Homo sapiens: one gene and its partners. The protein of the gene in region 1 interacts with the protein of each later gene in a pairwise test. Each region holds a gene or a part of one and is shown in the gene's direction. Other genes may lie near its edges. The genes, in order: TBC1D22B, ZSCAN4, LHX8 and SPATA2.

Region 1 (8,567 bases):
CACAGGTGTGTGCCACCACACTCCACTAATTTTTTGTATTTTTGATAGAGATGGGGTTTTGTCATGTTGCCCAGGCTGGTCTCGAACTCCTGAGCTCAAGTGATCCACCTGCCTCAGCCTCCCAAAGTGCTGGGATTGCAGGTGTGAGCTACTGTTACCCAGGTGATGTATATTTTATAATATTAAAAAACGGTAACATTAAAGAAAAGTTCCAGAAGTACCAAGATGTATATAATTCTACCCTCTACCAAAATTTGCTTAATTTTTCCACGTTTTCTTCCAATCTTTGACAAAACCCATATATTCTTATTGAAATCATGCAAAGATATTTTATATTCTACCTTTTCCCTGCTGTACATTTCATACACCTTTTTGATGTGCTATGTAGCATTCAAATTTGCCCTCTTTAATGGTATAACATGGTTCAAGTTTATAAACTGCACACCATAATTTACATAACTTCTTCTCATGTTTAAATCTTCATATTCTTTTCATTTTCCCCTGTTTATTATTGGTTGCAAGGCAAAGAATATCTTTGTACACAGAGATTTCCCCCTTTCTTCTTGCCAGGTATGGTGACTTCTTTTCTTAGAATAAATTCTTAGGAATGAAATACCTAGTTTTCCCTTCACCCCCCAAATTCTAAAAACTTTCTCTTCCTCTCTTTATTCCTATAACCTCTTACTTTTTCAGTCTTTTTGCTTATCCCCTTGCCTTCTCTAATATAACTGATCTCTGCCATTGGCTCTAACAGTGGTTGTTTAGATACTATAAAGCTCTCTTGCTGTTAAATCCCAGCTTGACCTCACTATCTCTTAGGTGGCCCAACATTGCACAGTGCATTGTGAGGGCTGCTTCTTGCTCTCATTTCTTAACCCTTCCCCTCATCACAGTGTCTACTTCCTTCCTTCCACTCCACTCCTTCACTAAGGTTAAAGTCTGCCAGGGATCTCTCTGTAAGTCCAAAGGCTTTTTTCTCTATTTTTATCTTCCCATTGGAGCTCCTGTCCTGAAGTGACTTTCCTCCTATAGTTCTTCAGGCCTTTCTCTTTCCTTTTCTCTCCCTACTCAAGGATTATCTCTTTCATAAAACTTTCTCTAAGGGTTGGGATATGCCTACCTCTTTTGAGTCCACAGTCAACCCAGGCATATCTCATCCCTTAACTATACTTTGCCACATTTTAAGTTGTTTAACCCTCTTTTGAATGAAGATGAAGTTGAGGGGGGGAAAGTAAAAACTTGCAGAAGCCTCTACTTACAGTTTCAAAATAAACTCTTGAGATAAAGTAAACAATCACAGGCCATACTGTATTAGTAACAGAAGATCTATAAAGTGAGGTCCATGGATCAGCAGCATCAGTGTCACCTGGGAGCTTGTTAGAAATTCTGAGTTGTAGGCTCCACCTCAGACCTCCTGAATCAGAATCTAGGTTTTTAATATAATCCTCAGTGATTCACATGTGCAATATAGTATAGGAAGCACTGGTCTAGTGGACCAGTGAATGTCTGCCAAGAAGGACCTCCATCAGAAGGCCTCTAAGGACCCCTTGGGAACCTCAAACCAATGATTTACACCTCTTGCTGGGCAAGGGTGGCTGCCATACCTATCAGCCCTTTGATGACAGCTACCAACTGATCTCCTGACTAGGTGGGTGGCCTCCCTCCCTCATCATTCCAGGTACAGGCACATTCCTTTGAAGCTGCAAAAGAGTTTGAAGAATACAATCTTTCTCAGAGAAGACTGTTCTTCAACCAAGGATGTAGGCAAGGATGTAGAGTCATTGGTAAAGTGGACACATCCTACTAGGGGTTAGGAAACACTGTTTCTATCATCTTTCCTAACATAAAAATATGTGAACAACATAGAATCGAAAGACAAGAAATATTTATATTCTTCCTTCTTTCACTCAGTAAATATTTACTAAGCACTCACTATGTTCCAAACACTATTCTAGGTGCTGGGGATACAGCAGGGAACAAAACAAAGTCCCAGTCTTAGTGGGGTTCACGATCTCTAGGGCAGTAGTCCCCAACCTTTTTGGCACCTGGGACCAGTTTCAGGGAAGACAACTTTTCCATGAAAATTTTGGGGGAGGGGGGTTAAAGGATGAAACAGTTCCACTTCAAATCACAAGGCATTAGATTCTCATAAGGAGTGCGCAATGCAACCTAGATCCCTTGTATGAGCAGTTCACAATAGGGTTCAAACTCCTGTGAGAATCTGCTGCTGCTGCTGATCTGACAGGAGGCGGAGCTCTGGCAGTAATGATTGCATGCCCACCCGCCACTCACCTCCTGCTGTGCGGCCTGGTTCCTAACAGGCAACAGACAGGGGGCCTTTACTCTAGGGGATGGAGATGGACAACAAACAAGTACATAATATGGCCTGTAGTGATAGCGCTTTAAAGAAAAATAGAGCCAGGCAATAAGACCAATGGGCATGGCTGCAGCAGATTAAGCAAGAAAGAAAGCATAATGAGATGAGACTGGAGAGGTGAGTGGAGCCAAGTCATGTAGGGTCTTTAAGGAGCTTGGATTTTATGCCAAGTACAATGGGGGCCATTGCAAAGTTTTCAGCAGAGGAGTGACATGATATCGTCTACATTTTAACAGGGTGTCTCTGGGCAGGGTGCGATGGCTCCCACCTGTAATACTAGCTCTCTGGGAGGCCAAAGGTGGTGGATTGCTTGAGTTTCAGGAGTATGGGACCAGCCTGGGCAACATGGTGAAACTTCATCTCTACAAAAATACAAAAAATTAGCTGGCCATGGTGGTATGTGCCTGTTAGTCCCAGCTACTCAGGAGGCTGATGTGGGAGGATTGCTTGAGCCCAGGAGATGGAGGTTGTAGTGTGCTGAGATCATGTCACTGGACTCCAGCTTGGGTGACAGGGCAAGACCTGGTCTCAAAAAAAAAAAAAAAGGTCTCTCTGGTTGGTATATGGGGAATGGACTCTAAGGGGCTAAGAGTGGAAGCAGGGAGCCGAATAGCAGGCTGCTGTAAGCAGGTGTGTGGTTGGTGAAGATTAGGGTGACCAAGTGGTAGTGGTGAAAAAGGTTCCAACAATCTCAATTTCCCTATTTAAAAAGTCATCACAAGGTAACTGATGTGAATTTTTAAAAAATCTTGGAGGGGAAACTGATATAGAAAACAAACTGTAGAAATAACAGGGCTTTTCTGGGTTGAGCACTGTTAACTACACCCCCTGGGAATCAGTGTCATTTAACATTTCATAGAAGATTAAGAAAAAGGAGTATTTTGAGATATGTCTAGATACACAAATCATACTTTGCTTTCCACATAGTAAAATGTCAAATCAATAGGGAGCAGCTTCTGGAACATCTCTAAAGCCATGTGCATAAGCTGGAAAGTGGCAGGTATCTTGTCACATGGATGAGTGTATGGCAGCTCACATAGGGAAAGACAATTCAGAGGATACCTTTAAGACAATGAACTCTGAACTGCTGGTTGCCACCAAGGTAAGGAATCTAGAAGTTGTTTTAGATTACTCTTTCAAGACATCAACTCTTCTAAAGTCCAAACAGCCAGCAAAAGGTCTGGCTGTCCAGAATAAAGACAAAACATCAGCCTTAACAAAGCCTCAGTACATCCCTCTTTGGGCTTAGTGTGCAGTGCTGGTCACTGCATCCTAAGAAAAAGAAGCGCCAGAGAAAGGCAAGTAAAATAATTAAAAGAATAGAGGGGCTTTTTTTCTCTGGGTTAAATGCCCATAAAGAAGATAAGATGCTTTTATAGCATGAAAGACTCAGAGGAAGTAAAAATAGCCCTTGTCATCCAATCCTATAATTCTTAAATTAGGGGACAAAAGAAGCTTGAAAATGGGAGTAATGAAGAAACCGTCGTTGGAGGACATATAAAAGAAGGTCCTTCTTTGGCTGGGGCCAGGGGTCAGGTCTTTAAGTATTCTCCAATATGTGGAAGTACATGTGGTAGCTGTAAATGGAGGGTGGGGGTGGGGGTGGGGGACACGCAGCCCACCTCAACAGTCCTTCGAAGGGACAAAAACCACTCTGGACTGGTGCCCGCCTTCCCTCTTTCCCCAAATCACCACGGAATACAACCACAGAAACTCAAAACCAGCAAAAAACGCTGACAAGACATTCAAAGGATTCAAAATGCTAATACTAAATCTCATTGTCTGGGAAAATTAGATTGAAAATAAATTCAAGGGTGCAAGATTTATAATAGATTAACAAGGGAAATTAAGGATGTTGGTGGGGCCGGGAGGAGATACATCCTTAACTTTGTGATTCACACGATGGAGCAATACTGTGTCCTTCAAAGAAATGGTATTTGGTAATCTGAGTTGGACAGCTATCATAAACCATTTCCTATATACACTGTTAGCATAGTCAGAAAGTGAGAGTTATGGATTGACATAGGGATTAGATCATTTGAATTTTTAACCCACAGCACAAGTCCTTCAATCGTTTTCAATAAACAGAGGGAGAGGGAGACTCTGATGAACCGTTGCTCACGTGTTGAACAGTTAGCAATCCCGGGCTATCGGGTCCCTGCTGACCTTCCTTCAGAAAAACGAATGGACATGTAAACGGAATGAGGAAAGGAGGGTAATAACCAGAGTGTCATTGAATTGAGAGATGTTAAAAATGGGCCACAACCAACACATGGGCCCTTACTTTTAGGTGAAAGATTCCTATATATAAATACATAGTATGTTCTCTCTTGCCAAGAAATATTAGACTAAGGAACTTCATTCCTCACGAAGAAGATAATCCCCTCTTCCTTCCCATAGGTCCCTTACCTTACCTGCTTCTTCCCTCTCGCGGGTAGGAACTTTGAGCCCCGCCTCTCGGCTCGTCCAAGCTCCGCCTTCCCCGTCCACCTGTGTGCCCAGCCCCTGACGTTACCGGTCGGCTTCAGCGGCCTGCAGGATTCCGGCTCCCAATTGGTCGGCCCGTCCACGGCTTGCGCAGCTCACCAATGGCAGCGGTGCTGGGTGGAGGGGTGCCCACATCCAAGATGGCGTCCCCAGGAGCTGGGAGCGGGTGACCGGCGGCGGGGAAGCGGCCTGGGTTGGCCCTCAGATTGCGGGGTCTGGGGGCATCTCGCCGGGCAAACCCTTGGCCCGCCTACAAGGACTTCCCCCGGCCAGAGCAATGGCCGCTGAGAACAGCAAGCAGTTTTGGAAGAGGAGCGCTAAGCTGCCGGGGAGGTGAGCCCAGGACGCTGAGAGGGATAGGGGATTGGACCAAACCCTTCCAGATCCTAATCCCTGAATCCCGCGGGCCTGGGGCGCCACAGAGGCCAGAAGACTGGTTTGGGGAAGCTGGGACTGCCTGGTGGCGGCAGGGCAGCTGTCAGGCAGCGAAGCGAACAGCGAGCTTTGGGGACGGCTGGATGTGGGTGTAGACCGGGGTCTGGGGGCGGAGGTTTCAGGAGGGGTGACCTCAGCGGGAAGGTGGCCGAAGATTGGGCGTAAAGGGGAGTGGAGTTGGGTGAATAGTCAGTGTCGGCCCTGGTCTCGGAAGTTCCTCCCCAGAGCTGCTTCCCACTCTAATTAGGACTCCCTCTCAGGGGTCTCCACCACGCACAGGTGGTTGGTCGCTCGAGGATGGCCCCTTCCCTTGATCCCTGAGGTCGGCACTTACCCGAAGGATTCCGGTGGGAGTTTGGGGCCGCCTGCCGAGAGGGTTAGGCAGGAAAAGTGAGGACGATTCTCAACCCTGACCTTACTTTATCTTGAGTTGGCCCTTTCCCACTAGGAATTATTACAAGACGACCACAGAATCAGGGTTATTCCTTTGGCATTTTCTAAGGATTTGTCCAACCCCAAGTGACTTCTTCCTCCCCTGCATTGTAATGCACTTCTTGTGCAAATGCACTAAATTCGTTCATTCTTCAGTTGTTTAACTGGAGAGCAGACCCCCTAAGACTACCCCCACCCTCTTTTCGGTGTATGTTGAGACTTTTGGCAAATTATCCATCCATCAATCTACTGTTGGTTTACTGTTTCAGTTTATTTTGGGCAAAGTCCTGAGAAGTATAAGGAAGAGTGTGTATTTCAGTCGTAAATTTAAGATTTCTGCCAGCTACAGTCTACTTGGTGATGAAATTCATGTTTGGTTGTGTCCCCTGTGCTACCTTTTCTAATGGATTCAGGTTTTTTCCTTCTGGGATAATCTTTTGAACTCGTGACTTTTTTTTTTTAAGCGAGAGAGAGATGAGGGTCAGTAGTGGCTAGGTAAGAGCCTTAATTTTTTTTTTTTTTTTAAATGAAATAGAGACAAGGTCTGACTGTGTTGCCAGGGCTGGTCTCTGACTCCTGGCCTCAAGTGATCCTCTTGCCTTGGCCTCCCAAAGTGTTGGGATTACAGGCGTTAGCCACCATGCCCCACCAAGAGTCTTATTTTATTAAGGATTCTAGTAGACATATGGAGAATAGGGTGGAAATCAGCTTTTAGTAATACTTATTAAAGTAATAGAAAGGAATGCAAAGATAACTTCAGATTAAAGTGCTGTGGACTCAACAGTGTTAATATTACTGTTAAAGATGTTCTGTGTTTTTAGGTAAGCACACTTCCTGCCAACTGATTCCTTTTCCTTCCTGGTCTAGTGAGCTCTCTAGTTGTGCTAACTGCTATTCTCTGGGGTTTTCCGTAGTGAGATCATTAAATTTTGACATCCTAAGATTATAATCATAATCAATAGGAAGACTGTTGTATCAGGAAGCAGTGTAAGAGATGTGGGACGTGGCATGGGCTTCTGTGCCTTCTGACTGCTGGTTGCTATTAACAATCTTTTTTTCCTATATTTCCTGTATTTGGCTATAAGAACAGTCAACTTTTTTAAAGCACTACTTTTCTGAGATAGGAAGAGAAGTCTTTTCAGTTTCTTCAAGTTTCTGGATTCCTTTTTCATTTTGAAGAATATAGAGAAATAGAGAACTTTCGAGTTCAGAAAGACTTGGGTTACTATTTGGGCTCTGTTGTGTGTGTGACCAAGACAAATAATCTTTCTAGGCCTCAATTTCCTTACCTATGAAATGAGAAATAAAAATACTTTCCTCAGAGTTACTGTGGGGACTAAGTGAAATACCCTATTTGTAAAGAGCCTAGGACAGTGTTTATTTAGCACATTATAGTTGCTCAAAAAAACAGTAGTTATTAACATTGCTGTCATTATTACAGCAAGTAAACATTTAAAATAATGTTACTCAGATCCTTACCCCAGCTCATTGTCTTCGTTGTTTAAGGTATTCAAATATTGTCACAATTCATAATAGTTTTTAGTACCTTACTTGGTAAAGAGAAATACTGTTCAGCTGTGTGCTTTTAGCAGTGAAGCCCACAAGCCTCTGGTCATAGGAGAAAACTAAGGTTCTTTTAGATAGAAAGGTACTTTGGTTTAAAGAAAATGTTAGGGCATTTTCTCAAGAATAGAACTTTTGCATCTGTACTCTTTCGGTCTTAGAGAAGAAAAACTTTCTCCTGGGTGGGGAAATGACACAAATGACTCTACTGGATGCATGCAAACTTGGAAATGAAACTAGTTTACTCTTCTTTGCAAATTGAAAGGTGAAAAATAAAAGCGATGACAGGGTTCTTTCCATTTGTCTGATCATGATCCAACAATCTTAGTGACAACAAATAGAAATTTTATTAAATAAAAGAAGTTGCAAATGAATGAAACATTCTTTTTAAAAATAACAGCTTTATTGAGATATAATTCACATACCATAAAATTCACTCTTTTAAAGTGTACAATTCAGTGGTATTTAGTATATTCATTTATAGTATAGATGGTTTTGTGCAACCATCACCACTAATTTCAGAACATTTTCATCATCCTGAAAAGAAACTACATACCTGTTTACAGTCACTCCCCATCCACCCCACTCCAGACCCTGGTAACTACTAACCTACTTTCTGTTTCTGTGGATTTACCACTTTTGGACATTTTATATATATGGAGTAATATGATCTGAGGCCTTTTGTGAGTGGCTTCTTTTATTAAGCACAGTGATTTCAGGCTTGTCCACGCTGTAGTATGTATCAGTACTTCATTCCATTTTATGGCTGAATAATATTCCATAGTATACATACACCACATTTTGTTCATTCATCAGTTGATGGATATTTGAATTGTTTTCACTTTTGGGCTATTGTACGTAATGCTTTTATGAACATTTATGCAGAGGTTTTTGTTTGGATATATATTTTCTATTCTTCTGCTGATAAATAGGAGTGGAATTGCTGGGTCATGTAGTAACTTGGTGGAACTAAGCATCTTTTAAGTTCTCTCAGTTATTCACATGAGCCCCATTTACTTAGCACATCAAATGGTCATTGTATTAATGCCTAGAAGATAAGAGGCAATCTCTACCATTGCAGGCTTTGGCAGGTGTGGTGGCCTGTAATCCCAGAATTTTGGAAGGCTGAGGCAGGTGGATCGCTTGAGGCCAGGAGTCCGAGACCAGCCTGGCCAACGTGGTGAAACCCCCCATCTCTACTAAAAATACAAATTAGCTGGGCTTGGTGGTGTGTGCCTGTAGTCCCAGCTACTCAGGAGGCTGATGCCCAAGA
Region 2 (7,622 bases), on another chromosome or scaffold:
CCGGGGCGGGGGAGGAGTCGGCGCGGTCGTGCGGCCGTGGAGGACAGCGAGACCCGGGGCTGCGGCTGCAGGCCGAGGGGCCCCTGGGACAGTGAGAAGCAGCGGCGGGAGCTAGTCACGGGGCAGGGAGCGCTCAGCGGTAAAGACGGCTTCATCTGACTCCAGGGCTGGCAGGCGGCCCGGATGGCATGCCGTCTCCTGCGGAGAATTCCAATTTCCCCCTAAATCGCTCAACAAGCGAGAAGGTTTTGGGATTCGAATTCAGTGGGGCAAGCGAAGTCGCCTTTCCTTCTTAAACAGATGGAATCCCTGGTCCACAAACGTACCCTGTGCCAATTTCATACAACACGCTATGGCTGCTGCGGATGAGAACACAGCAACTCTGCCAGATGAAAAGCTTCAAGGCTCTGTGAATCCAAGGTCAAAAACGCCAAAAAGGAAAGTCCTTTTCCAGGACAAGCGCACGCGTGCTGGTCGTGGAGCGCCCCCTCCTCATGGAGACCGGCCTGGGATTGATGTCCTTCATTAACAATGAGGCTAAACTGGGCTATTCCATGACTGACCAGGGGCAAAATAGGCTTTTAGCCAGCGGCATTCTGGGAGCTCTCCCCACTAAGAAGGCCAAGGGATGTGGGGTCTGAGAGCCTGGCAGTCCTCATGCAAAGCCGCTGCTGGCTGGAAGCATAGGGGTCTTTTACCTTTTGGGATCTCTGCACGATTAGAATAGTAAAGTGGATAGTAATTGCATATTGCACTCTGCTAATGCAAGCTACAGACAAAAGCAAAAAGAATCTAGCTGCCACTGTGCTGCTAGGATTCCATTTTCTGTAACTTCAGTTCTGATACTTTTCCTGGAGTGTATCTACTTGGCTTCTGGCGGTTCTTCCCATCCCAGCCACTCCAGCAGGCTAAATCCCGCAGCACACCCCTTACCATTTGTGTAGGCTGCTAAATACAGGGAGGCACCTGGTATCTCCAGTGTCTGCAGACACAAATATGTTTACACTTGGTGTCAAATTTTGTATTTTAAATTTTAATACTTTTTTTTTTAAAGCTCATACAAAAGCAGCCAGCAGACAAGTTCACTGACATCAGTCTGCACCTGTCAGCTCCTGGGTGAATCATTGTTCTTTTGTAAATGTGTGTTTGACCTAAAGTCACCCTTTTTCTAAAATTAATCCAAGGCCGGGCGCGGTGGCTCACTCCTGTAATCCCAACACTTTGGGAGGCTGAGGCGGGTGGATCACCAGATCAGGAGTTCGAGACCAGCCTGACCAAAATGGAGAAACCCCATCTCTACTAAAAATACAAAATAAGCTGGGCAGCCCACGTCAGTAATCCCAGCTACTCCGGAGGCTGAGGCAGGAGAATTGCTTGAACCCGGGAGGTGGAGGTTGTGGTAAACCGAGATCGTGCCACTGCACTCCAGCCTGGGCAACAAGAGTGAAACTCCGTCTCAATAATAATACTGATACTTAAAATATCTTTGCGAGGCCCAAGTAGGTTTACAGAAAATCATCTTAGGACAATTTTTTAATTTGAGAAAGTCACTTTGGCAGTTCTTTGCACACAATTTTGACAAGTGTATGTATTATAAGTTGTATTGTATTCATATTTAAAAGGAAATTGGGTAGTTTGCCTTTTGAAGAATGCGCTTTTTAAAAAGGAACCATATCAGATCCTTATGAAGCAGCCGATGCCTGCCATGGTTCCTACAGGTCCTGTACAGACTCGGGGCTTTGTCCAAGTCTCCACTAAACATGCTAAGCTTCGATGCGCCCTGGAGAATTTCCACGGGGTGATCCACGCACCTCCATGAGATCCTGCAGCTTGCTTGTATGACTGGAAGCATTGGATAAGCTTCGCGTGCTGGCTCTCCAGTTCTTTCCTTCTCTTTACGACTGTTGTAGCTTTTAGCTAATGGAGTGGTGCGGTCCAAGTGCGGCCACCTACGGGAGGTGCAGGGCTGCCTCGGAAGCTGGCAGGGGACCCCAGTCTTTGCGTTCATAAAGACATTTAGAACCGGATGAATGTTGTTCCTTTTTTGAAGTTGTTATTAAAGTAGGTGCAACAACCAAAAATCAATAAATAATAAATAAATTGACTAAATATTTTTTCTCAAAAAAAAAAAAAAAAGAAAAGAAAGTCACCAGGTGTGGTGGCTCACGCCTGTAATCCCAGCACCTGGGGAGGCTGAGGTGGGCGGATCACCTGAGATCAGGAGTTTGAGACTATCCTGGCCAACATGGTGAAACCCCGTCTCTACTAAAATACAAAAATTAGCCGGGTGTGGTGGCGCATGCCTTTAATCACAGCTACTCTGGGTGCGGAAGTTGCAGTGAGCCAAGATCGTGCCACTGCACTCCAGCCTGGGCGACAGAGCAAGACTTTGTCTCGAAAAAAATAGAAAGTTAACAGTTTTGTTTATTTTCCTACCAGGTTTTTATTATTATTATTATTATTCTAATTGAAATCACTGTTTCCTACATACTGAGGCGGATTGGCTTTGTCTTCTTGGAAACAAAGGTTATTTTCCTCACTCACACTGGAGCGGGGATACTCACCAGACACAAGTTGAGATGATGCTGGATGTAAACGGGTCATCTATTTTTACCAAAGGCAGCACTACCTGCCTTCCCAATTGATCAGAAAAGCATTTGATAGTTGTCTTTGTAATATCCTTATTTGATTAAATTACTATGTGGATTTCACATTTATTTTTATTGTTTTGTGCCTGTTTATTCTATGCCTAAGTTGGGGTATCACCAGGTCATTTCCTCCACCATCTGTGTTTCCCCAAGGATAAATCCTCCTGCTCATGCCCTTCACTCCTCCATTAGCCCATTCCCTAGAAAGCTGCTGGTTTTACACAGTGGCTGTGTGTCTTTGCCTTCTTAATGTAGCATTCAGAGTCCCACTCTGGAGCCAGGTATCAAATCCTAGCCCAGCCACTTACAGGCTATGTAGCACTGGCCAAGGTACTGAACTTCTCTGTGCCTCTGTTATTTTGATGTTAAAATGGAGTTATTTAGGATCTACTTTACAGGACTGTTGTGATGGAAATGGGTTAACATACAGAAAGCACTGAGAACAGAGTCAAATATGCCCTGACTGCTTAAAGGTTAGTTATTATGATCCCTGATGCTATTACTACTCTTACTGATATCATCGTGCCTCAGGTCTAACTGCTCCCAGAGTTACACACCAGCATGTCCAACAGCTGGCTGTATATCTGAACTCAAAAATCCAATAACCTCCTCCAAACAGAAATTGCCAGCTTTTCCCCAAACCTTTTCCTTACAGCTCCTTACAGAGCTCAAGGAACTCCTTGAGACTGCAGAAGCAGACAGGAAATGCTTTCAACCCACCACAAATTAACAACTGGCCTCCAGTGGTACTCACATTGTCTACATTTTTCATTGTTTTTTTTTTGTTTGTTTTTTGTTTGTTTGTTTGTTTGTTTTTGAGACAGAGTCTCACTCTGTCGCCCAGGCTGGAGAGCAGTGGTGCGATCTTGGCTCACTGCAACCTCGGCCTCCCAGGTTCAAGTGATTCTCCTGCCTCAGGCTCCCGAGTACTTGGGATTACAGGTGCCTGCCACCATGCCTGGCTAATTTTTGTATTTTTTTAGTAGAGACGAGGTTTCATCATGTTGGCCAGGCTGGTCTCAAACTCCTGACCTCAGGTGATCCACCCGCCTCGGCCTCCCAAAGTGCTGGGATTACAGGCATGAGCCACTGCGCCCAGCCCATTTTTCATTGTTGTAGCAGAGAAGTATCCCTGCTTCCATCAAGAGCCAATTTTCCTGTCACAGTTGGTTTAATGACATAGTTGGTGACAGGACCTAAACCACCAGTGGAAAATTGGCTCTTGATGGGAGCAGGGATACTTCTCTGTATGGAGTATATGTGGATGAAACTCCTTGGAGAAATGGACTAGTACACAGTCTTATAATGTGAGGATTCAGAACATAATTCCTAATGTGGGGAAGTCAAGCAGACATTTCATCAGTGGAGTACCAGGAGATTCAAACTCTGTACCCAACAGTGATAGGGGGACAATCTAAGCCCCAAGAGGCTGCATGCCTGATGGAGCAGATGAAACACATGGCTGTAATTAGCTCCCACCCCTTCGATACGTTCTCAACTCCACCAAAGCCTCAGCCTGTATGAGGGTGGAAAGTGGGGAGGGAGAGTGCAGGGAAGAAGGCACAGCTTCCACCACACTAGGTGACCAGGCGCTTCTCACCATTTTAACTCCTCCATCTCTCTCAAGCCTCATGTTAAGTCTATCAAACATCATATGCTTTCTCAATATAAAATATGCACCAATTTCTCCCTTTCCACTGATATAATCCTAGTCTCAACCCCTGTCATCTTTTTGATGGATTAGGAATGCCTTCTCTGGGTCCCGGGCCCCCTCTGTTTCACCAGCCTGGAATTGGCACAGGAGTCACAGCATTAGCCTTGCCCTCTGCCACCCTTGTAATTCATAAATCTCTGAAAACTTAAAAGTTTGAGCAAAAGTTTGTCATGTTTCTATGAGTAATTTATAATAAAACTTGATCAGAATTTGTGAGACTAACGTTTGTCTTTATATTTTCCTTTTTTTTTTTTTTTTTTTTGAGACACAGTCTCGCTCTGTCGTCCAGGCTGGAGTGCCGTGGCGTAATCTCGGCTCACTGCAACCTCTGCCTCCTGGATTCAAACAATTCTTCTGCCTCAGCCTCCTGAGTAGCTGGGATTACAGGTGCATGCTACCACGCCCAGATAATTTTTGTATTTTTAATAGAAACCGGGTTTAACCATGTTGGTCAGGCTGGTCTCAAACTCCTGACCTCATGATCCACCTGCCTCGGCCTCCCAAAGTGCTGGGATTACAGGCGCGAGCCACCACACCCAGCCTGTCTTTATATTTTCATTTAATGTGGACCTTGTTACATTTTACCGCAGATTTTGTATTTTTGTGTGTGTTTGTTTGTTTGTTGGTTTTTGAGACAGTCTACCTCTGTCGCCCAGGCTGCAGTGCAGTGGCACAATTTCAGCTCACTGCAACCTCCGCCTCTGTGGTTCAAACAATTCTTCTGCTCAGCCTCCTGAATAGCTGGGACTACAGGCACGCGCCACTACGCCTGGCTAATTTTTGCATTTTTAGTAGAGATGGGGTTTCACCATATTGGCCAGGCTGGTCTCGAACTCTTGACCTCGTGATCCGCCCACCTCGGCCTCCAAAAGTGCTGGGATTACAGGCATGGTTTTTTTTTTGTTCGTTTTGTTTTGTTTTTTTTTTAGAGACTTGGTCTCCTTCCATTTCCCAGGCCAGAGTTCAGTAGGGCGGTCATAATCCACTGTAGCCATGAACTCCCTGGCTCAAACAAGCTACACAGACATGCCACCATGCCTGGCTAACATTTTTAACATTATTTTTGGTAGAGACAGGGTCTTGCTTTGTTGCTCAGGCTAGGGATTCACAGAGTCTTGCTCTGTCTCCCAGGCTGGAATGCAGTGGCGCAATCTTGGCTCACTCTAGCCTCTGCCTCCCAGGTTCAAGTAATTCTCCTGCCTCAGCCTCCCAAGTAGCTGGGATTACAGGTGCCCACCACCATGCCCGGCTAATTTTTGTATTTTTAGTAGAGAAAGGGTTTCACCATGTTGGCCAGGCTGGTCTTGAACTCCTGATCTCAGGTGATCTGCCTGCCTCAGCCTCCCAAAGTGCTGAGATTACAGGTGTGAGCCACTGCACCTAGCCTGCAGAAATATTAATGTGTTTGTTTATGACCTGTTGACCCAGGACCAGTGATGGTATAGAACACTGTATTAGAGACATGGAGCTGGGGCTGGATGAAGATTCCATCAGTAATTCAATCAACAGACAAGTGTTATCCAATCACGTCTTTAAATCAATCACTGACATGGAGCTGGGGCTGGATGAAGATTCCATCAGTAATTCAATCAACAGACAAGTGTTATCCAATCACGTCTTTAAATCAATCACTGATCCCAGCCCCTATAAAAGGGAGCAGCCTTAGGAGGCACATCAGATAAACCCAGTGTGGAAAGCTAGTCACACATCAGCTCAGTGTTCGGCCCGGGATTACCCAGTCAACCAAGGAGGTAAGCTTCCATAATGGAAGGAAAATTTTGTGCCTTTGAGTGTGTATACATTTTGTGTCTTTGAGTGTGTATACATAATTTTGTGTCTTTGAGTGTGTATACATGTGTATGTAGGCATAGCTATTTCAGGAAAATTCCTAACTACAGAGATATGGGGGTCTCCCAGGTGTAGGGAATGGTCTTTTGTTACAACAGCTCTGACCCAAAAGGGCTTGATGTTGTGAACTCTGTATAAAGGCCTGGTGTGACTGAAGATTTTTCTTCAAAAAGTCTATCGTATGACTTTATGTTCTAGTAATTCTTTTTTTTTTTTCGAGACAAGATCTCTATCACCCAGGCTAAAGTTTAGTAGCCCCAATCACAGCTCACTGCAGCTTCAGCCTCCCCAGGCTCAAGTGATCCTTCCACCTTAGCTTCCTGAGCAGCTGGGACCACAGGCGCACACCACCACACCAGGTTAATTTTTCTATTTTTTGTAGAGGCAGGATTTTGCCATGTTGCCCAGTGTGGTCTCAAACTCCTGGCCTCCAGTGATTTGCCCACTTTCAGCCTCCAAAAGTGCTGGGATTACAGATGTGAGCCACTGTGCCCAGCTTAGTAATTCCTTTGTATTGCATTATATGAAATATGTAGCTGGGTGTCATTAGAGATCATAAAGCCCAGGATACAGACCCAGACCTGACGGGTAGCATGCCTGCGTCACAGTTTGTAATTGCCAGACTCCAGATTAGAGCTCCGGTAGCCTTGTTTTGAATTCCCAGGTTCTGGGAAATAAGCCATAATACTTTGCAGTCTTGTCTATGTGGGACGGAGTGCATGTCTCCAAGTGTGAACATGTGGTCTGTGTGTCATAGGGGAGAAAGGGTGGGTAATCCAAAAAGAGAACTTGGAGGGAAGTGAAATGAAGGGGAAGCCATGGGTTCCACAGGAAAAAAAAAAAAAAAGAGAGAGAGAGAGACCAATGTCCCTGGATATAGAGAACCAGCCACAACACCTAAGATGGAGCTTGAGAAGTGTAGAGCTGGCCCAGGAAAGCCTCGTAGGACAAGGACTCAGTGCTTTTCCCTGAGGGCAAAGGGGAGCCATCCAGAGAGTAGAGTGGGGTATGATGTGAGCAGATTAGCATTTTATAAACGTTGACTGGAAGCATTATGACAACTGGGTTAGGGAAAGGCAAGAATGTGTTCCATTGTCTCCTAGGAGATTTTACCAGGATCACCTCTGCCTTATTAACTGATGCGATCAGGGTAGCAGATCTGGTCTAATCAGACCAGATGAGATTAACACAAAGCAGGAAATAACATTAACTAACAGAAATCAGTTAGGTTTTTGTGTGTCCACGTATTACTCCTACCATTTTCTGATTTTATGGCATGAAATTTGCTTTTTTCAAAATTGCACAAATCTTTGAAATGTTAACCATATATAAAATTGGAGAAAAAACACAAAAATAGCAATGATATATTAACAGAAAAGGGATTAAATTCTTTATCCATTCAGGATTTCAAA
Region 3 (7,606 bases), on another chromosome or scaffold:
CAGAATTATGCAGGCAGAGTTCTGTAGAAAGAGGTTAGAATCAGGTTTCCATTGGTCCTGATTTGTTTATCATTCTAAACAGTAAAATGCATATAAAACCGGCACCTCCAAACCACAGGCGTGCTTAAGGCGCTATTGTCGGCTTGGAAATGTCACAATGAATAAATGGTGTGATGGACTTTAGCGTTTCGCGCCATAGCTTTTAGCCGGGAAGCTTTCCAGGCTGCCCTGCTTAATTTCGGCGTGGTTCCTAATTTTCTCTCTCCCATCCTCTCTCTTAGACTGGAAACGCTTCCCCTATTTCTTCCGTAGCGGACCGGGAGAGCTTACTGGCGCTCTGCGAACCGGCTGGAAAGAAACACCGAGTCACTCGTACAGACTCTTGGTCGCAGAACTTGGCTTTCCGCTATTGGTCCTCCAGAACCGCTTGAAACAACTGGCCCCAGCTGGCGCATCAGACCGCAGTGAGGAATGCCGCGGGGCGGGTGGCGAAGGCAGGGTCTGCCCGCCAGTGGATTCCCGGGTGTCCCGCGTGGAGCAGGCTTGCCCAGCTGGGAAGCCCATCAAACCTCAGTCTTGGCCCACAGTGGGAGAGAGACCAGTGGGTCCCAGACGGAGGCCCTCGCCCGCTTTTGGCGACCTCCACTGGCGTGAATAAAAGCACCCCTCTCTTACCCTCAGAAACTGTGGGTAGCAAGGTATAAAACGGAGTCTGGGACCGGTAAGTCCCAAGGTGAGCCCGTATACAGCTCTGCCATCTCTGAGGGGTTATGCAGATTCTGAGCAGGGTAAGTTTGTGGAAAGAACCTCTAGAAGCAATCTCCTAAAGTCTTTTTCCAGACTAATATTTATAATGGTTACACGTGATGGGCAAAAATCCAAAGACACGGTCTCCTAACCCTGAACCAAGTGTGACATCCACAGTTTCAGAGTGGTTTTAGCTGAGATTTCACCTTCAGGGATCGAAGGAGTCGCCAACCAGAATTCTGCCAGAATCCGCACCTTCTTATGATCGCGAAAGTCTCCCCATCCTCCACCGCCTCCTACAGTCCTATGGCCCACTGTACCCTTGGCGCTGGAGCCCTGGAGGTGGGCGGTGAGGGCCGCGGGCCAGGGAAAGCTCGGGTCCGCAAGAGCAGGGCTCTGTTTCTGCGCCTGCAGGCCGCCCGGGAGTCCTGGATGCGCCTCCTTTGACCACGTTTTCTCTCAGGCTCCAGCTGTGCCTCGCCCCGATCTCCACAGGTCTGACCCAGGCGAGTCCCTAGAAGGCGGGCGGGAGGAGCCGTAGCAGGGGCAGTTTCGGGAATCCGAGTTTCCGGAGATTGCCTGAGCACCGCAGAACCTCCAGGTTAAGTTCTCTCAAACGTGTGGTTACTCACCCCGAGGAGCTCAGAGGCAAAGGGTTCAATAGTCAAGTTGGTGGGGACTTTCCCTACTTAAAGTTATAATTTGCTAATTCGGATCTATTGCTTTTAAATATCGAGTTCCAGAGACCTCTGTCAATGCAGGCTTAATTTCATCCCACTGATGAAGGATGTTTATAAACGGCGCCTGCAGTGCGAGCTGAGTGTGAAAATATCAGTTTTATGCCTTTTGATAAGAATTACCGAGGCGGAAGGCTCATTAGACGATTACAAATTTCGCAGCTGCTCGCAGCCCAATTAGGCAGCTCTTCGGGTGAGTGGAAGCTGTGGGGGTCAGGGCGGGTTGATGTTCCCTCTCTCCAGCCCGGACCTCCAATCAAGGCCTGGCTCCACGGGATCTAGACCCCTTCCCTGCCCCCATCTGTTTTTAGGGAGATACACTCAAGGCTTCCCTTAAGCAGGAGAGGCACAGCCTGGGACAGGACGCACTCCGAAGTCTCTCAGGCTGTCTTTCCCATGGGCTTGCAAAAAGCCCTGTGGTCCACGGATGTTGGTAGACACCTTGGGTGGGCCTGCCGCCTCTGATTTTCAAATTTTCAATTTAGTAGGTAGGAACTGTCACGACGCAGGCGATTGCTTTTCCACCTGTGGACACATAAGATGATGTTTTTTTGATCAGAGTCTTCGTTCAAAATTGGAATCAATTGGCGTTTGGGCTAAAAACCCTCATTACTAAGACCAAACAAACAAACAAAAACTCTTTTGATTTTTAGCGCACCCCTGTAAAGTAGGAAGATAACTTTTCCGTTGCCCCAGCCGAGGATGAGCGTGGGTAAGAGGCGTGACGCGAGCTCCAGGGAACCGGGCCACCAGGAAGAAGCTATACCTTCGTACGCCCACCCCTGACAAAAGGTCAGAAGGTCGTTGGACCCCAGACCGACAGGACGATCAGCCCTGGGATTCATAGCAAACACATTCCCCTCTTCTTGCACACTCGACCCCCAGCCAAAGGCTTATACCGCCCAGGACATAGAAATTGACTCACCGCCCAGAGGCTTACAGCTCAAGGAGGGGTGCGCGCAGCTGCACCCCGGGACAGGTCAGCATCCCACAAGGCGCCTGGAGTAAAGCGAGGCCAGACCAATCTTTCACGTCTTCTGCTCCTGTCTGACGACCATTCTTCTTCCCCAAGCCCAGAAACCTCTAAAAATGAATCATTTTCTCCACTTATGCAGAGATAGACGCTCTTAGATCAAGGTTAGTATTTTGAAAACCTGACTGAGAGCCGCCTGATTAGGCGAGGGTGGGTGGAAAGACCGCATAAATGCCCGCACCCCCGCCCTGCTTCCCTAACACAGCTCCAGCTCTCTCTGGATCTCCAAATGACCCGCGCGATAAATTCTCCTCGATAGTAGCCAGACAGTACCCCAGATTCACTTTAAACCCTAACACACACACACACACACACACACACACACACTGTAATTAAATATCCAAACCGGACCTTTATGTTTAATTCCACTTTCAACGAAATCCTGCTCTATACACGACCTGATGGCGCCAATGTTCTGCACGACTCTGACTTTCCATTCGGAAGAGCGGTCTCCACAACGATGCTATTTCATGGAAAATGCATTATGTGAATTTCTCCACCACCCCCAATACCGATTTCTGCATTTGATGAAAAACACAAGTCTTTCTGGTTCCCACGCACAAGTTAGCTTTTTGAAAAGTCAGTCCACCCCAATCTTTCAATTTTCTAAGAGGGCACAGATTAATTATATCGTCCTCCTCCCTTCGCTCAGTAAATTTAAACGAGATCTCCCAGAGAGGACCGGCAGGGGGATGGCTAATATTAACTTGTGCGCAGCTGCGCGAAAAGAAAAACAATGGCGATAGGAAAATGCTCTGAAGACTCTAGTGTTTATGGGAGAAAAATGCAATGGAGGAAAAACTAAATTTGTAGTGGTAACTCGGTCCCAGACTCTTACACAGGCTCACTTCATCACAGGAAAGGCTATCTATCTCCTCCGCTAGCCGGCTGCTGACCGAGCTGGGGTCTGGGCAAGATCATTTCGCTCTTTTTCTTCTATACAAATAAGGCAAGGAGATAAGATATGTGTGTGTGCGTGTGTGTGTTTTACATATATATTTCCATCTAATTAAAGCAAAATCCTATGATTCTGTTAAAGGCCTTTAAGAAATAGACTCCTAGATCTTCTTAGTTTCAGAAGTTTAGCTTTTTAAATGGAAACAAAAATCATTTAAAAATAATCTTTTAACCAAATTTGTCTTTATACACTAAATAATGAAATAAAGTTTATACCACAAAGAGTCTGTTTAAACAAACACACCTTCCAATCTTAATCAAAATTAAGGTACCCTGAATACCTCCCTCCGCCGCTTCCCCGCCCCGCAGTCAGAACTTGAGGCAGAAGACAAGGCTGCTCGGGCTTACATTTTGTCTAGGAGATGAAAGAGCAATACTCATTAGCAACATACTTTTGTCTTTCTTGTAGCCTTGATTTCAAATCTAGTCGCAAATCATAAGCTTTTGTGTTGCTCAGATGTTCCTTCTTTATCTTAATGAGAAAACTTTTCGGAAAGGGAGCGCGAACTGCTAGATAAGTCAGCTCCCAGGCTGCCAGGAGCGGTGGCATTCCTCGGCTACACCGGACAGCTGCGAGTTTCAAGAGAATGACTAAAACTTTCAAGTCACCCAGACCTCCACTTCCCCTTCTGCTTGCTGCAGAAAGAGATGTAACCTGAATCTTTGTTTAGGTTTGGGTTGGGGAGCGAGAATTTAAAAGTTATGGCAAATGCAGACAGCAGATTTTTTAAAGTCAAGTTAACAGGACATCCCCCAATTTTTTTTTCTTTAGTACTAAACCTGAAGTCAGTTGGCGTGTTCTGATAAAGATTTTAACATGTAGAGAAGGCGGGTTTTCCTGAAAGAGGCGAAGCAATTTCTCCAGGAAAGACTTTCCCCCACACGCCCCCTTCCTTTATATTAGGTTCCACCCTCTGGAAAACAAAACTTTTTTTTTTTTCTTTTCCTGGAGGGACTCAGGAAAAGCTCAGTGCTCACTTCACTCAGAGCTCAGTGAAGCTGGGAAAGGAATTTTAAGAACGGTTCATCAGAAAGTGGTCAGGCCACAGCGGCCTCTTTGGACGAAGACACACTTGTAGCATTATCCTTCTCGGCATCAGCTTTTATTAGTGGATCGGGGCGGGGGAGGGGGGAGATCGGCAGACACGGACAGCCTCTGACCCTCTGGAGTTGGTATGTGATAAGCAGCCCTAGCAGTGCCATGTATTGGAAGAACGATCAGATGTTTGTGTGTAAACTAGTAGCAAAGGACGTGCCGGAGCTGGCAGTTCCCCCTGAGAAGGTGAGCGAGCCGACGCCTGGCCAGACCAGCTGAATCGCAGTGTCCTTGAAACTCGAGTTGTTTGGGCTCCTAAACAAGGTTCAGAAACTACCTGTAACGGCCTCATCTTCAGACCTGGCAATTTTTTTTTTTTATTACGTAGTAGCGTTAGTCAGTAATCATTGCACTCCCTCCCCAAAAGCTCACTTAACCTGAGACATGGAGACTGTAATTTGGGAGATGAAGCCTCGAGCCTAAGGCGCTCTCAGGTCCATGTGAGTCGTGCTTTTGTTCTATTTGCTGTGGTGATCGTGGCGGTCCGGGAGAGTGGGTCGGGAGGACTGGGCGGCTGTCGGGTGGAACCGGAGACCTGGCTCGTTTCGTTCGGCTGCCCGCGGACACTTGCCTGCCCTGAGGCACACCTCCCTCTGCGGGGCTCCAGAAAGGCCTCCGGGATCCCTGGGCTTGCCGGGAGAGCCATTTTACCTAAAATGCCAAAAGAAAACCGCAGGGCACAAAACGAGTCACGCGGTTTGTCTGAGTAGACTGGGGAAGCTGACAAGCTCTCACCTCACTCGGGAGGCAGGACCTGTGGGTATTTGGTGTTTTAAGTTTGAAATCATCTGCAGCCTGTCTGAGGGCCTCAGCAGGACGCGCGCGGGGCGCCCCTGACTATTTCTTTGCTCCGAAGCCGGTTGGGGACACCAGGCGAAAGCGGAGCTGTTCTGTTTAAACGCCCTTTGTGTGTGAGGACGCGGCCTCAGTGCAGCTACGCTGGGTCCCGCGTAGGGAGCGCACCCCAGAAAGGGAGGGTCTCGGCCGACGGTCCGGGAGGCCCCCAGGTTGGTATCTTGCCTGGTGCTTCCAGAGGGAGGGAGAAGGGGAGGCGAACAGTCAGAAATGCAGAAGTGCGAGCCGCTCGAGTTCGGGGTACCCACCCGCCCCCGAGCTAGAGTTTTTGGAAACGAAAGCGGTCTAAGCCCAGGGACGCTGCGTTTTCGTTTAAGAACAAAACTCCAGCAAATACTTGGAAACACTTGAGTAACGCGCGTTGTTTCTTTAAAACATTTTGTCAGAGGTTGGGTGAGTTCTTTTAATGGCACAAATTAAATTCAGCTGGATATTTTCCATTATTCTACCCGCTTTTTGCGCTGGTTAAAAATAATCCTTTAGTAGCTCAAATGTTGACTTACTGAGCAATAAGTGGCAATTTACACCTTAAAGAAACGAGTGTAAATCACTCGCCACTCTAATTGCTGTAAGTTTACGAAAGAGCTGCTGGCTCGGTTTAATCTGAAGCATTTTCATTCAAATTGTCATCGGAACAAACACCAGGCTTCTTAAATCCCGCTGTAATTAGCTTTCAAGTATCCTATTAAACCTCTTCACCTTTCGGGCTATCCTATTCAAAAAGCCCCCTTTTTAAAATATATATGTGTCTTGCTCTTTTAATTGAGGTTATTAAAGAAATCTAGTTTCTTCTCCCACCCCCTCCTCAATCCTCTTTTCTTCTCTCGCACTCCACCTCCCACTGCCCCGCACCCCCTTTAGCCCGGTGTTCCCCGCTCCGCTATGATTGACGTCTGGAAAGAAAGAGCTTTGTGAGGGGATGATTGTTATTAACTTGTTATCCCCGGCGGGGGGGCGGGGAACCGACGTGCCCGGGTGAGCGCCGGAGACCCGGAGCCCGGGGAGCGCGGGACGAGCTACCAGCGCTCGGGTGGCGGCCGCCAGCGGCCAGCGAAGGAGGCTGCGCGCCAGCCCGCCCGCGGCGCCCGGGCTCAGGCGCCGTGACGGCTGCACGCGCTGCCCCGCACTCTGAGGGCCTTCATTAGCTCGCTCCCCGCGCCGAGGCTGGGGCGGGCAGCACGCTCGGAACTTCTGATCTGTTTCTCCATACTTTCTCCCCCTCCTACTCCGCAGTGTCAGGGGCTCATGTCAGAGGAGTGCGGGCGGACTACAGCCCTGGCGGCCGGGAGGACTCGCAAAGGCGCCGGGGAAGAGGGACTGGTGAGTGCGGAGGGGCTCGCGTGCTGGCAAGACTGGCCGTGGGGAGGCGGCGCAGGACGAAGGGCCGCTGTCCCCGCGCTCCTTCCAGGGCCCAGCTGGCCCCTCCTGCAGCAGACAGAGGACGGGGCGGAGAGGGTCTGGGTGGGGTGGGAAGCTTAGCTGGCCCGCGAGGAGGGCAGGGCCGCAAGACTTCTGGGGTCCGAATAGGTCAGGGGTCGGCAGCCCCAGCGGGTGCGTAGCCAGAGCTTGGACTCGGGGAAGAGGGCGAGAATCGTGACCTCAAGAAGCTGGGGGTGGGGTGGGGTGGCCAGGGGGAAGGGAGGGGAGGCGGTGGGGGCGCCCTTGTGGGTAGGTGGGATGCGAAGGGGAGGAGGGGTCTAGAACCGCCTGCGCCTCGCGGTTTCCTGCAGGTGAGCCCCGAGGGAGCGGGGGACGAGGACTCGTGCTCCTCCTCGGCCCCGCTGTCCCCGTCGTCCTCGCCCCGGTCCATGGCCTCGGGCTCCGGCTGCCCTCCTGGCAAGTGTGTGTGCAACAGTTGCGGCCTGGAGATCGTGGACAAATACCTTCTCAAGGTAGGATAGGGCCTCGGGTGCGAGGCCCAAGGGGAGCGGGCTTAGCGTGGGAGCTCTGGGAAAAGAGTAATGTTCCTCCCACCAACCTTTCCGTTCAAGTTCTGGGTGAAGGTTGTAGGCTTTTGCAGAAAATCAGCCCAGTTTAGGGCAACTCATGCGGTGGGATAAAGTGAGAAGAAATCCCAGACTCTTCTATGTCGTTGCAAAACAGCTAATGTGTGACACATCCTGGTCTGGACGCGCCGGATGTGTGTGGATGCGCTGGAGTCAGCCACTGGCTTGTAGTGGA
Region 4 (7,955 bases), on another chromosome or scaffold:
TCACATTGCCCATATCTGGCCAATAGGGACCCTCCATCCTGGCTTTTGTGTGCTTTCAACATGTCCCATCATTCTTTGGGCACTTCCTACTTTCTGGCTCAATAACATGTTCCAACCTCATGTTGTAATTTCCCTGACCTACCCCTGGGAATCAGCCATTTCTCCAGGAAGCCCTGGTTCCATGGACTAAGATCTGGTTAGTCTTAGTCTACGTGCTTGTTGCTACAGGTGTGCCATTTCTTCTAGGCCCTCTCAACAGGTAGAAACAGGAGGTATATTTACAAATATTGTTTATAATTAAGAAATTTTATTTAAAAATCTGGATTCCAGGCTGGACGCAGTGGCTGGTGCCTGTAATCCCAGCACTTTGGTGGGTCAAAGTGGGAGGATCACCTGAGGCTAGGAGTTTGAGACCACCCTGGGCAACACAGCAAGATCCCACGTCTTCAGAAAATAATTAACTGGGCATGATGGCATGAGCCTGTAGTCCCAGCTGTGTGGGAGGCTGGGGTGGGAGGATCCCTTGAGTCCAGAAGTTTGAGGTTGCAGTGAGCCATGATCATGCCACTGTACTCCAGTCTGGATGACAGATCAAGACCTTATCTTTAAATAAATAAATAAACAAACAATCTGGATCTCTAACTCCTCTCCAAAAATCAGAGTATCTGGTCATTCCTGGTGAGTGGGGATCTTGGCCACAAGTCAGCTGAAGCATGGAAGGAATTCAACAATATTTGTTTTCTCACTGAAGTACTTATTGGATGCCTACTGTGAGCCGGGTACCATGTTAGATTACATTACTCATTTCTGGTCCTACGCAGTGTGAGGCTATAGTACTCTAGTACCTCGTATTTGCCCACATTATGTGCTTGCAGGTAGCTGAGTTTGTGTTTTTGTTTTTTGTTTTTGTTTTTGCTTTTTTGAGACAGGGTCTCCCTCTGTGTCCCAGGCTAGAGTGCAGTAGCGTGATCTTGGCTCACTGCCACCTCCACCTCCCAGATTTAAGCGATTCTCCAGCCTCAGCCTCCTGAGTAGCTGGGACCACAGGTGGGCACTACTACAGGCTGGCTAATTTTTGTGGTTTTAGTACAGATGGGGTTTCACTGTATCGGTCAGGCTGGTCTCAAACTCTGGGCCTCAGGAGATCCGCCTGCCTCGGCCTCCCAAATTGCTGGGATTACAGGCTTGTGCCACTGAGCCCAGCCACAGGTAGCCGAGTTTTTGATCTCAGGTCCTTGCCTTTGATTGCTCCCTTTACTCCAGCTGGAAGGAAAGCTGGACAGCCTCACATGTCCAGGTCACTCAAAGCCCAGCTCAAATGCTACTTCCTCCTGGAGGCTATCCTTCATTTACCCTGTCAGAGGTCACTTCTCCATGCTCTAAGCTCTATACCCCTCTCATATCATTTACCATCTTCTATCCTGAATTCTAGGGTTTTATTAATCCTACTCCTATGTTATGAATATTCTCTTTCGGTTAAGGAGACTGGATGCTCTGTGAGGGCAGGAACTGTGTCTGTCTCACTCACAGTTATGCCCTTTAAACCTAACATCAGGGTGGGCATGGTGACTCATGCCTGTAATCCCAGCACCTTGGGAAGCCAAGGTGGGAGGATCACTTGAGCCCAGGAGTTTGAGAGCAGCCTTGGCAAAATTGCGAGACCCTCCCTCTACAAAACAGTTAACAAAATTAGCCAGATGTGGTGGTGTGCAACTGTGGTCCCCGCCACTCAGGAGGCTAAGGTGGGAGGATCGCTTGAGCCTAGGAGGTTGAGGCTGCAGTGAGCTATGATCATGCCACTACACTCCAGACAGGGTGACAGAGTGAGAGACCCTGTCTCAATTAAAAAAAAAAAATCTGACATCAAACTTGGCACATGGTAGGTATTCAGTGAAAATTCTGGTCAGAAACAAATTATGTTGAACAACCTATTGCATGCTAGGTAGTGCATATATGTCAGGTAGTAGTAATATAATTGTGAACAAAACAGACATAGTTTTGTCCTCATGGAGTTCACTGACTTCTGGGGGAGAAAGATATTAATACAGATCACATAAATGTGTGTTTGTGGAATGAAAGACAGATATCTGTATCTGTGTTCCTGTCCCCAGTTGACTTTTTTTGTTTTGTTTTTTTGAGACAGAGTCTCACTCTGTAGCCCAGGCTGGAGTGCAGTGGTGCCATCTCGGTTCACTGCAACCTCTGCCTCCCAGGTTCATGCCATTCTCCTGCCTCAGCCTCCCGAGTAGCTGGGACTACAGGCACCCGCTACTGCGCCTGCTACCACACCCGGCTAATTTTTGTATTTTTAGTAGAGACAGGGTTTCACTGTGTTAGCCAGGATGGTCTCGGCCTCTTGACCTCGTGATTTGCCCACCTCGGCCTCCCAAAGTGCTGGGATTACAGGCGTGAGCCACCGCGCCTGGCCATGCATCACCCTTTTTAAGTGATCCACAGTATTTGTTAGTATGGATATACCATTACCCCAGTGATGGAGATTTAAATATTTCCTATTATTGCTTTTGCATTAGAAACAATGATGCAAGAGGTCTCTTTGGGCACAGTGTATGTTTCTCTAGCAGATTTTGAGAAATCCAATTGCTGGGTCATGGGGTAGCTTTTCTGTTTTGCTTTTTGTTCTATACTCCTCTGTATTGTTGGAATCATGTATTACTTTGGTGATGGAAAAAAAAACTAAAAAATAGAAAGAGGTAGGTAGATTGTTCGTGTTGTTGGCTCTTCGGAAGTAGAAGTGCCTAATCATTGTCACGTGACCCTTACATAATCTGGTAATCATTATATAATAAAGTCGGGAAAGGACGCTCCTGTCATTTCTACATCACCAAGTAGAGAAATCACAAGCCTTCAACTGTGTTTAAAAGATGAGAAACATGGCCGGACACAGTGGCTCAGGCCTGTAATCCCAGCACTTTGGGAGGCCGAGGTGGGCGGATCACGAGGTCAAGAGATGGAGACCATCCTGACCACCTTGGTGAAACCCCATCTCTACTAAAAATACAAAAAATTAGCCAGGCGTGTTGGCGCGTGCCGGTAGTCCCAGCTACTCCGGAGGCTGAGGCAGGAAAATGGCGTGAACCCAGGAGGCGGAGCTTGCAGTGAGCTGAGATTGTGCCACTGCACTCCAGCCTGGGTGACAGAGCGAGACTCCGTCTCAAAAAAAAAAAAAAAAAAAAAAAAAACTGAGAAATGTGACTGTCTTTGGAGACTTTGGGTCTTTTCTGATAGTAGATGATGACCAGGGTTTCCTACTGGTAAAGCCCTTCTTCAAAATCTTTGTTTCTCTTTTGCCTGTCATAGACCCACAGAGCTGGAGGGGACTTTTTTAAGCAGCCCCACGTGAAAATGCAATATTGTAAGAGCTACCAAACCAGAGTGCTGAGTTGCTGTAAGAGGCAGACTTAAGGTGGGACAGTTTGTCTCAGATGGAATTCCTGTGAACATCATCACATTGCAGATAATTAAGAGAGGAGCTTAAACATGAGCTGATAAAGAACACAGGGACTTTGAGCGGTGCTCAGGCAACGACAGGTAAACACAGTAATGCTACTGTTTGGACAGCAGCAGATTGCTGGTTCTCCAAACGTTTCCCAGTATTGTGTCACTGACTCATCACACAAGCCCCACCGGTTTTAGCTGGGGTCACCAAGACTCAGAGTGAGAATCCTACAATCAATGAACATCTGTTGTGTGCCTCCTCATCAGACATGTGCAGAGCTCGGGGGGAAATAGATGAATAAGAAGCTCAGGGTCTGGTGGGGATGTCAGATTATATATATATATAGTTTATCCGAAAGTGCTGGGATTACAGGCGTGAGCCGCCGTGCCCGGCTTTTTTTTTTTTTTTTTTTTTTTTTTTTTTTTAAGAGACGTGGCCTCGTTATGTTGCCCAGGTTGGTCTCGAACACCTGGGAGCAAGCCATCCTCTCGCCTCAGCCTCCCGACTAGCTGGGACTACAGTCGCGTGCCACCACGCCTGGCTTTATTATTTAATATTACAGGTTAGAAAGCTGAGGCTCAGAGAGGTTAGGTAACTTGTCCAAGGTCACACAGCTAGTAAGTGGCAAAACTAAAAATAGAACCCACGCTCTTAACCGCCGCCCACGGCCCGTAACACCCGCAGCCCTAGCAAGGCTGGATTCCAATCACGCGTGATTTCAGCATCTCACTGGCTCTCTTTGAGCCTCGGTACTTCTGTCCGTAAAATGGGGGCGAGGGATCCGACCGTCAGCCCCTGCTTGCTTGTGCGGAGTCATGAGTACAGCTCGTGGATCATGATAAGTGGCAGGTCCGGGAAGTGGAGGCCGAGTTCACGCAGTCAGCACTCATAGCTCCCAGCTCCCTGCTCCTGAGCGGTTTCCATGACAACCCGGCCAGCCACCATCCCTAGGCCGAGCGGCTTGCGTCACGTCCGGCCTGTTTACTTCCGGGTCCCAGTCTCAGACGCAGCGATGGCTCGTTAGGCTCCAAAGTGCGGTTCCGCCGGTTTCGTCCTCGCTCTTCGGCCTTCCGCTTTGTCCTCCGCCTCTGGGTTGTAGTCTCCGTCGGCCGCGGGCATCGACCGCTTCCCGGAGCCAGCGCGCAGCCGTGGTCCACCCTCTCTTCGGGCCCGCCTCATGGTGACATCATTTCCGGGCCGAGTGTTTCCGGGTCGCTGCTGGCCCCCGGGTACTGGTCTCAGTACCCCTGCAGCCGGCCGGAGAGGCTAGAGCCCGACGGGGCCCGGCTCCGGCGGCAGCCGCGCCTCTCGCTTGCTTCCCTCGGCCGGGCCGTCCTCGGCGGCAGTGTCAGGGTGAGTGACGGGCGGCCGCGGGCGGAAACTGCCTTCGGGGCTTCCCCAGGCGGAGGGGGCGCCAGACAGCGGCAGGGCTCGGCTGGCCCGGGAGCGGGGTACCCTCACGGCAGGCAGGACTACAGGTGGGCCCGCTGTTTCGGCGCTCCCGGGACCCCCAGCCTATCCTCAGGACCCCCATTCTCCCGGGAGCTGCCTCGCAGGCTCCTGGGACCCGCCGAGGGTGGCTCAGGGCCGCCCAAGAGGAACACCCCTCTTCGGCGACTGGCCAAACAGAAGGACACCCCGATTTCGCCACGAGGCAGTTACCGCGCAGGGGTTCCCAGTTCAGGCTCTGGCGGCACACCTGGGTTTGTACTCACTGTGTGACCTTGGATAAGTCACTTCATCTTAAGAGCCTCAGTTGCCTATTTAAGTGATTGAACCTGGTTGCTAGGGCTGGAGTGGAGATGGAATGAGATCATGCAGGGCCTCTGGCATACAGCAGGCGTCCAATAAGTGATAGTTCCTGTTACTTCATTCAATTCACGAAGCCGTAGGGGGGGCCAGAATTTGAGACTGGGCTGTTTTTCACAACTGACGTGGCCCCCCGAGGCTGTAGGAATGACCGAGCTGGGACTTAGCAGCCGCCAGCTTCTGTCCCCTGCAGGGAGGGAAACAGCTTCCTTCAGAGCTTCTCCGAGAGAGGCAGCTGCCACTAGGGAAGCTTCTTTCAGCACCGCTGAGGTTATTTTCAGAGGTTTGGAAGGACTCTGTGTGAATTTCTTTGGAATCTAGTAGGAGTGTGGGGACCTTCTGGTGTTTCACAGCCAGTGGAAGGTGCCTTGGATGTTTCTCGGAGCCTCTTGCTTGGAACGAGTGCATTGGTGTGGGTGGGGAGGTGGAGGGGGTTGAACTGACTTCCCCGTCTCCTGTTTGGAGGCTGATGGAGCTAGACCAGGGATGTGTAAACCTGTGGACAGGGGCAGTGCACAGACCAAAATAGGTCTGCCTGTGCAGAGAGGGGGCGCCTTCAAATGCTGCTTGGGGAACATTTCTGCTTGAATGGGCCAGCTGAGGTAAAGCCAAGCTAATGCTTAGCTACTCGGAATCACTTCACTTCCATGCAGTGGGACTCTAAACAGATACAGCTTTCCTCTTAGATGTTCAAAAAATAACTAAAGAAGCCACTGGCTCCCTGACTGTGCAATATCTCTTTTTCCATTGACTTGCTTTTCAAGAAGGTACCTAGATTGTGGGTGCAGGAGGTGCTGACTGGAGCCGTTGACTCTGGGCACCTGCCTGTCTCTGTGTTCAGGATATTCACAGTGCTGTTTTTTTGTTTTTTGGGTTTTTTTTTTTTTTTTTTTCCACCAGACTGGCACGGCTTGGCGTTCCAATCCTTGGGTTGCTTGGAGAAATTAGCAGCTTCTGTCGCTGGGCTGTCTCGGTCTCCTGTAACCACGATGTTTTTGCAGAGAGCGTATTTTGTTGTTCTTGCAGAGTGCTGGGAATGAATTGCTGGCTCTGTGCTCAGAAAAAACACCAGCTATGACCAGCTACAAGGCATCTTGTATTCTCAGAAAATGTTTTCAGCAGGGATGATGTCAGCTGCTTCATCACTGGCCGATGTCTCTGACCAGCCTCTTTCCTTGGCCCTTGAGCTTACATCATATAGAGATTAGCTCTCCTAGCCCCATTCGGTGTGGGAAGATGGGAATTTTGCTACTACAGGAATTTTTGTAACTCAACTCTGCTCGCGCCGCCATAAGGCATTCTAACTTAGCCAAACACTTTCGAGTAGAGCTGTCCAGCAGATGCAGCAGGATGGCTTTGCAAGAGTCGGAGTTTTGGCGTTAGACCTAGGTTCAGAGCTCAGATCCACTTCTTCCTAGCCTTACGACTTAGGGTAAGTGAGTTGGCCTCTCCGAGCCTCAGTTTCCTCTTTAACCTTGGATCTATCCTGTGGATTTCATTGGTTTTCACAGAGCAGTTAGCAGAGGGATGCCACACAGTAATCCCTTGGTAAATGGTACTGATGTAACAATAAATGAGTGAGGTAAATTGGAGAAAGCCCAGGCATCAAGGGCCTCCCAGCAAGAGTTCAGATTCCAGCTCTGACCCTTTCAAACTCTGTTGGGCAGGTTGTTTTAATGGGAAGAGCCTGTTTTCCTTATAGAGTTGTGAGGATTAAATGGGATGATGTAGGTAAAGTGGGAAGCCCAATGCTTAGCACATAGTAGAACCTCAGTAATTGTTAGTCTCTTTCTTTCCTTTCCTTATTGACTGATTGAGACAAGGTCTTGCTCTGTCACCCAGGCCGGAGTGCAGTGGTGCCATCATAGCTCACTGCAGCCTCAAACTCCTGGGCTCAGTGGATCCCCCCACCTCAGACTCCCAAGTAGCTAAGACTACAGGTGGGTGTCACCACACCCACCTAATTTTTTTTTTTTTTTTTTTTGTAGAGACGGAGTCTAACTATGTTGTCCAGGCTTGTCTTGCCCTTAATTATCTTTTAGCTTTTACTTTCTTCCGCCTTTTCCCTCACCTACCCAGGTTGGTTTGAGATTTGTTTTAGATAGGCTTCCTGTCCTTATTGTGAGTATTTTGAACATCAGCTGGGCTGTTTGGATCCCTTTCCTTTATTTATTGTTTTTCAGCAACAAACAAGGGTGTGGACTGTGGTGCGATTATAGAGCAGCAGACGCTGAGCCGAGCTTGAGACTGGCTGACTTTGTAAAAAATCAGTCTCTTTGAGTTCAAGGCTGACTTCCTTGGAGAAAAATTACAGCAGTATTCGGAAGCTTAATGTCTCTGTGTTTGAATGGTTCTCAGACTACCAAAAAACAGACCCTGGGGCCAGAGGCGTGATGGCAGCTTCTCTTAGATAAGTCAAGAATGGTAAATGCATGTGTGACTATCCTCTCCAGTGGTGCAATACATTTATTTATGTAGAGATGGAGTTTTTGCTCTGTTGCCCAGGCTGGAGTGCAATGGCACGATCTCAGCTCACTGCAACCTCTCCCTCCTGGGTTCACGCCATTCTCCTGCCTCAGCCTCCTGAGTAGCTGGGATTACAGGTGTTCGTCCAGCTAATTTTTGTATTTTTAGTAGAGGCGGGGTTTCGCTATGTTGGCCAGGCTAGTCTCAAACTCCCAATCTCAGG

Evidence for each region.
Region 2: the proteins of TBC1D22B (region 1) and ZSCAN4 interact in binary tests that used the Homo sapiens proteins (3 or more experiments, as listed by UniProt).
Region 3: the proteins of TBC1D22B (region 1) and LHX8 interact in binary tests that used the Homo sapiens proteins (3 or more experiments, as listed by UniProt).
Region 4: the proteins of TBC1D22B (region 1) and SPATA2 interact in binary tests that used the Homo sapiens proteins (3 or more experiments, as listed by UniProt).

The regions. Positions count from the first base shown.
Region 1 is NC_000006.12:37,252,777-37,261,343, forward strand, and holds the start of TBC1D22B (TBC1 domain family member 22B), read left to right. Parts: upstream 1-4,995; 5' UTR 4,996-5,141; coding exon 5,142-5,197; exon of another isoform or gene 5,198-5,368; intron 5,369-8,567. UniProt on the Homo sapiens protein: May act as a GTPase-activating protein for Rab family protein(s).
Region 2 is NC_000019.10:57,664,455-57,672,076, forward strand, and holds the start of ZSCAN4 (zinc finger and SCAN domain-containing protein 4), read left to right. Parts: upstream 1-4,480; 5' UTR 4,481-4,749; intron 4,750-5,790; 5' UTR 5,791-6,113; intron 6,114-7,622. UniProt on the Homo sapiens protein: Embryonic stem (ES) cell-specific transcription factor required to regulate ES cell pluripotency. Binds telomeres and plays a key role in genomic stability in ES cells by regulating telomere elongation.
Region 3 is NC_000001.11:75,129,945-75,137,550, forward strand, and holds the start of LHX8 (LIM/homeobox protein Lhx8), read left to right. Parts: upstream 1-4,443; 5' UTR 4,444-5,010; intron 5,011-6,438; exon of another isoform or gene 6,439-6,658; coding exon of another isoform or gene 6,659-6,670; coding exon 6,671-6,745; intron 6,746-7,155; coding exon 7,156-7,317; intron 7,318-7,606. UniProt on the Homo sapiens protein: Transcription factor involved in differentiation of certain neurons and mesenchymal cells.
Region 4 is NC_000020.11:49,912,235-49,920,189, reverse strand, and holds the start of SPATA2 (spermatogenesis-associated protein 2), read left to right. Parts: upstream 1-4,660; 5' UTR 4,661-4,810; exon of another isoform or gene 4,811-5,160; intron 5,161-6,487; exon of another isoform or gene 6,488-6,698; intron 6,699-7,228; exon of another isoform or gene 7,229-7,955.